Regions from separate parts of the Homo sapiens genome. Here region 2 is linked to region 1. The links come from fine-mapping of genetic effects on gene expression. Tissue or cell type: subcutaneous fat. Region 1 holds a variant in brackets; the other region holds the start of a gene. All regions are shown on one strand. Distances are from middle to middle.

Region 1 (2,758 bases):
CAGGCAGGGGAGGAGCAGAGCTGTGCCAAAGGACCTTCATGGAGCCAGGCTAGTGAGCAGGGTAGTGAATTGCAGGGCCTGCCCTGCCAGTTCTGTTACACACTGCACCATCTCTTGGATGGCAGGGCTGGATGGGTAGCCCAGGGCAGCTCCCTTGACAGCCAGCACAGTGGCCCGCAATGCCTGGCCCAGTGCTGTACCTGCAGCCCTGACCTGTGCTCTCAGAGGGGCAGAGGCTGCCAGCCGGCCCAGGGTGTCCCCAACAAACACCAGGCGATGAGCAGCCACCACCACCCTCTTGCTGTGGGGCACGAAAAGGCGCGGGGGCTGATTAGCCTGGGTACTGGACATCAGGGCTGCCACGGCTGCCTGCAGGGCTGAGTAGTGGCTCTGGCATTGCCCAGCATAGAAGTACAGGAGCTGCAGATCTCCGGTGGACACAACCAGTGGCTCCCCTGGGGACAGGGCCTCCTGAAGGGCAAGAGGAGTGGTCAGAGAGAACATTCTCATGAGTGCCATTTCCTCCCTCACTTCTTTTCTCCTTCCTCTCTTTCTTCCCAAGGGCGATCCTTTTAGCTCTTACCTCTGCCCATCGGAAAGTTTAGATTCTAGAGAGAGCAGCAGTGAAGTGCCCACACTTGATATCAGATAGATCTGGATTCAAACAACCTCAAACTTGATTTCGGACAAGGCTTTGAACTTGGTTTCCTTAACTCTAAAACAGGGAGTCTAGGACTGCACTGTCCAATATAAACATAATGTGAACCACATGTGAAATTTTAGATGTGTTAGTAGCCACATTAAAAGTGGTTAAAAAAAAAACAAAACCCTAATATATTTTATCTAACTCCAAATATAAAAATGTTATAATTTCAACATATAATCAACATGAAAATTATTGAGATTTTTCCCATACTGAGTCTGTAAAATCCAGGCTGCATTTTATATTTGCAGCATATTTCAATTTGAACTAGGCCTATCTTGAGTGCTCAATAGCCATATGTAGCTAGTGGCTACTGTACTAGATAGTGCAGTTCTAGTATGTACCTCATGAGGCTGCAGTGAAGGTCAATTGAGATAATATACAGAAAGGGCTTAGCAAAGTGCATTTCACACTGTGAGCACCAGATGAGTGTTAACTGTGGCTGTGATTAATACTAACACGTGCAGTGTGCCTAGCACAGGGTCTGGCACTTGGTAAATACCTGATAAATGGTAGCTATTGTGTTGCGACCATTCT[A/G]CGCAGGGTTGAGGAAACCACCTCACTTTCTGAGGCCTGGAGAGATTAACTGACGGCTTCAAAGCCCCTGGCTTCTCAGTAGTGAAGCTGGGATTAGAAGCCAGGTCTCTTAGGAGCCCAGGAATTCACAGTTGGAAGGAGGCTCAGAAGTCCCCAGGCCCAGCTCTGACCCCACAACTCAGAAACTTTCTGCTCTCCTGGCTGCTTGATTTTCTGACTCCTCTCCAACACATTCTTTCCCCTCTTTCTGAATTCCTAACATCCTCTTCCAAGGTCCAGTTCCTTCCTGTAGATTTCTAACTTGCCTCCGCTCTGTCCCTGGTTCCTGTGAACTCTCACTCCATCCTAACCTATTTCCTTCCACGGTTGATGGCTCAGTTCTTCTCCCAAGTCCCCATTCCTCCCTCCCCTGTCCCCTTCTCTAGCACCATTCCCGCCAGGGTCACCTGCGGCGCCGGCATCCCCCTCTCGGGCAGTTCAGGATCCCCTGTGCAGGCCTGATCCGGGGGCCTAGATCCCTGAGCTTTGTCCATGCCCTGCAGGAGGGGATCAGGTCTCAGTGTCGGGGTGGGGGAGCAGGACGGGGTGGCCTCTGTGGCCTTTCTGCCCCTTCCCCGGACCCCCTTCCTTCCGAAGGACACTCCTGTTATCAGAGGTTGTAGTCCCTTGACTCCAGAGAGCTCTGGTGGCCCCAGGCTGGGTCTAGGAGGAACAGTGTGGCACTGGTACAAGTGTTGTGGCCAAGTACTGGGGTCCCAGGCTGCAGGGTAGAGGGAAGGGGGACAGAAGGGAGGCAGGGAGGCTCTGCCTCTGTGCCCTAGGTCTCCACACCCCTCCCCTTGGTCCCTCTGGGGTCCCTCCTGGTGGGGCTGCCAAGGGGCGCTCACCTTCAGGTGGACATAGTCATACTCCTCGGCCATCGGAATGCCCTCGTACTCATTGTGGTGTCCTGCTGGGTCATCCTCCATCTCCCTGCCCTCTGGATCCCCCTCGACCTTGGGGCCTCCATAACCAGGCAGGCGGGGTGGGGGTGGGGGCAGAGGCCGGTCCTGGATGCTGCCCTTCCGGCCTGGGGCAGGAGAGGGCACTGGGGAGGGGCTGGGGGCCTCAGGGACAGGCAGGGCAGGCAGAGGGCGGCGGGACAGGCTCTCAGCTGAGGGGAGCCGGGGCCTGTGTGGGGGTGGGGGGCTTCTGGCCAGAAGCTGGGCCAGGGTGTCCTGGTCATGGGAGGCCAAGGCTCCAGGGGGCTCTGGAGAAGGGGGAGCCTCTGGCCCCAGCAGAGGCACATCGTAGATCCCCTCATCAGTGCCCCCGCCCTCCCCGTCTGCCAGCAGTTCCTCGGGTGCTTCATACAAATTGAGTAAGGCTGACGCTCGTTTCAGGTTGGAGGGGGCAGCATAGATGGGGGGCCCCGGCTCCCGGCCTCCTTCCCACTCCAGATCTGGTTCCAGCTCTGCAGGTGGCTTTGGGGTCAGAGGCACATCATAGGGAGCATCATCCTCTCCAGGGGGCTGCGGG
Region 2 (2,500 bases), 870 kb after region 1:
AATACTAGACCTCAAATCTTAGCTAAGAAGTAGTTTGGAAGGACTGGGGAAGAGAAGGTTAAGAATGACTATTATGTACGGTAAATATGCTAAGAAGCTGATGAAATAACGATAGATTTACTTAGCTACAAAAAGGCCAAACTAGCATTAGACTTCACTTGTCAGCAGTTTTGTTTTTTTGAGGGGGGCGTGGGGGGGGGGGTCTCTGTCTGTCTGAAGGCACAAAAGAGGAAACAGCAGATAGGACTAACGAGGGCTGGAAATTGGTGAAGAACCACCACGGGAGTTGAGAGATGCAGATGAAGGAAACCATGGCTAGTAGCAAGAACTAGGGCAGCGGTAACTAACCTGCCTCAGCCAAGGAAGTGAGGCTGGTCCAGGATGCCAGGCTCAGAAAGGCAGGTACTGACTGAACACACTCCCCGCTTTGGTTCCTGTAGGACGGGTGAGATACCACACCTTGGCAACCACCAGTAAAGGCTCATAGTCTAGCCCTTGGGAGGCCCCGATTTTAGGGCTGTGCTCGGAGGCGACCTACGTTAGGGACTGGGAGAAGCAGGTACCCTGGGAATGAAGAATGGAGAGCAGCGCTTACTCCAAGAATCTGAGAGACGGGGGAGTCAAGCCGCTGCTAGGCCTTCTCTATGACTGCGGGGGTTCGAATACAGTGAGACCCGACAAAAGCGACCCCATTCTGGGTGATAGCACAGTCCTGGCAAAAAAGCAGGCATGGCAAAATACCCCAGGGTCGTCAGGTGGGACCTGGGCCCCGCTCTCAAAGCCCTTCTGGGTCCCCCTATTTCCCACCACCCCTCGCGCGGAGCCCTGAGGCAGTCAGCGTCCTCCAGGCTAGGGAAAGGCGTGGTTTTCCTTCCCCACGTCTCCCGTAAGGCACTGCTGCCAGCCCAGTACTACTGCGTCTTGGCAAGGCTGGAGGTGCTCCCACCTTCACTTTAATTAGCATCTTCTTTCCAGTTTGGGGCTGCACACGGATAAATTGCTGCTCCTACCGCTCCGGTCGCCGCTGCCGCCCTCCAGCACTCTTGCCTGCAAGGGCCACTTCTACTTCCGGGTCACTGTCTGGCTCCACCCCCCCCCCCCCCCCCACTGGGTTCCGGAAAGGCTCAGGGTTGCTCCCGCGTTTCGGTTCAGTGACGTCGTAAATTGGAATGAGGCATCCAGTTTAGCAACAGCAGAGATGACGACTCTGCGATTCTGAGAGTCCCTGGCGAGCCCGGGCTAGCGAAAAGTGGGGGCAGAACGAACTACATCTCCCATCGTGCCAGGAGGCGGTCCCGCCCGTTTCCCCCTGGGAGTTGTAGTCTAACCCCCTCGGATCCAACAGCAACCTCAGTGCGTGAACTCTGTTATCCAGAAGGCCTCGCCCTGCCGCCGCCGAAGCTGGAATTCGTCGGCTAGTAGTTCTCGCCGGCAACTAGAGGAACCTGTTGGCGTGGCCCAGAAGGCTTAGCGGGATTGCACGAGGTTAGTTGCTAAGCAAGGTGGTCTTTGGTCAACTGCCGCCTGGACCAAGGCAACAGGAAGTGAGTACCTCTATTCCGGAAACTAGTTATGAACCCTCCCCGCCCCCCGTCGCCAACATTCCTTCGTTCCCCTAAATCAGCCTCTTGCCCCATTGCTCTTTGCAGGGGTAGAAGAAGGAAGTGTAGCGGGGTAAGGAATGCACCGTCAGGGTCTCTCACAACCCTTTCCCAGCTCTCCTCCCCAACAAACAGTACCTGGGATGGAGCCCTAGGGTAATCGCAGCCACGGGATGGGTCGAGGTGACAGGCTTCAGGGACCACACTTCGGCCTTTGCCCGACCTTCCACAACTTAAGCGAAGAGAGGCCACCAGCCGTAACAGGGCGTTAAAGCCCAGGGGAAGATTGGTCCTTATGACTTCCTGCCTTCCAGCCCTCAGATTCATCGCTACCCCGAGGCTAAGCGCCATGCCTCATATTGACAACGATGTGAAACTGGACTTCAAGGATGTCCTTTTGAGGCCCAAACGCAGTACCCTTAAGTCTCGAAGTGAGGTGAGCAAGCTTCTCTACTTGCTGTTTCTTGACCCCACGCTCCCGGTGGGCCACAACCAAGAAAGATGCCTGTCCTTGTCCTAATATGGTACGTTTTTTGGATTAATGAAATGGTCAATTTCCTGTTCATATCTGCAGGTGGATCTCACAAGATCCTTTTCATTTCGGAACTCAAAGCAGACATACTCTGGGGTTCCCATCATTGCTGCCAATATGGATACTGTGGGCACCTTTGAGATGGCCAAGGTTCTCTGTAAGGTAGGGCTTTCCTCATGCCCCATCCCTATTGGTGTCCAGTTAGCCCAGCTGACTGCAGAGGTGTTTGCATCCCCACCCCCATGCCCAGTCAGTTCTCTGGCAGTTAGCAGTCAGGATGCTCTGATTTACGGTTTTTTCCACTACTGAAGCCCTTTATCTGATAAGTTCAAAAGGCCATCTGAATTAGTGAGATTCAAAGCTAAGT

Direction of the effects. Alleles are on the strand shown, and positions count from the first base shown. SD is a standard deviation of normalised expression in the study named.
As copies of A replace G in region 1, the expression in subcutaneous fat of the gene that starts at base 1,064 in region 2 goes up (moderate effect, 0.56 SD a copy in GTEx).

Evidence for each region. PIP is the estimated chance that this variant, and not a neighbour inherited with it, causes the effect.
Region 2: NEDD8 starts here. The variant in region 1 is fine-mapped to the expression of NEDD8 in subcutaneous fat (GTEx, PIP 0.98).

What each region holds. Positions count from the first base shown.
Region 1 is chr14:23,357,190-23,359,947 of GRCh38, forward strand. EFS (embryonal Fyn-associated substrate) reads right to left here. Exons shown (of 6, transcript NM_005864.4): 4 at 2,128-2,758; 5 at 1,687-1,776; 6 at 1-471. The coding sequence ends at 37. Among named protein-coding and RNA genes, the nearest start is that of SLC22A17, 5.7 kb to the left of the region's middle. The variant A/G (reference allele first, on the strand shown) is at 1,241.
Region 2 is chr14:24,231,304-24,233,803 of GRCh38, forward strand. It overlaps NEDD8 (NEDD8 ubiquitin like modifier), which reads right to left and starts at 1,064. Exons shown (of 4, transcript NM_006156.3): 1 at 947-1,064. The coding sequence starts at 964. It overlaps NEDD8-MDP1 (NEDD8-MDP1 readthrough), which reads right to left and starts at 1,064. Exons shown (of 7, transcript NM_001199823.3): 1 at 947-1,064. The coding sequence starts at 964. GMPR2 (guanosine monophosphate reductase 2) reads left to right here and starts at 1,626. Exons shown (of 10, transcript NM_001002002.3): 1 at 1,626-1,674; 2 at 1,916-2,037; 3 at 2,176-2,295. The coding sequence starts at 1,951. RefSeq lists enhancers at 928-1,793, 960-1,254.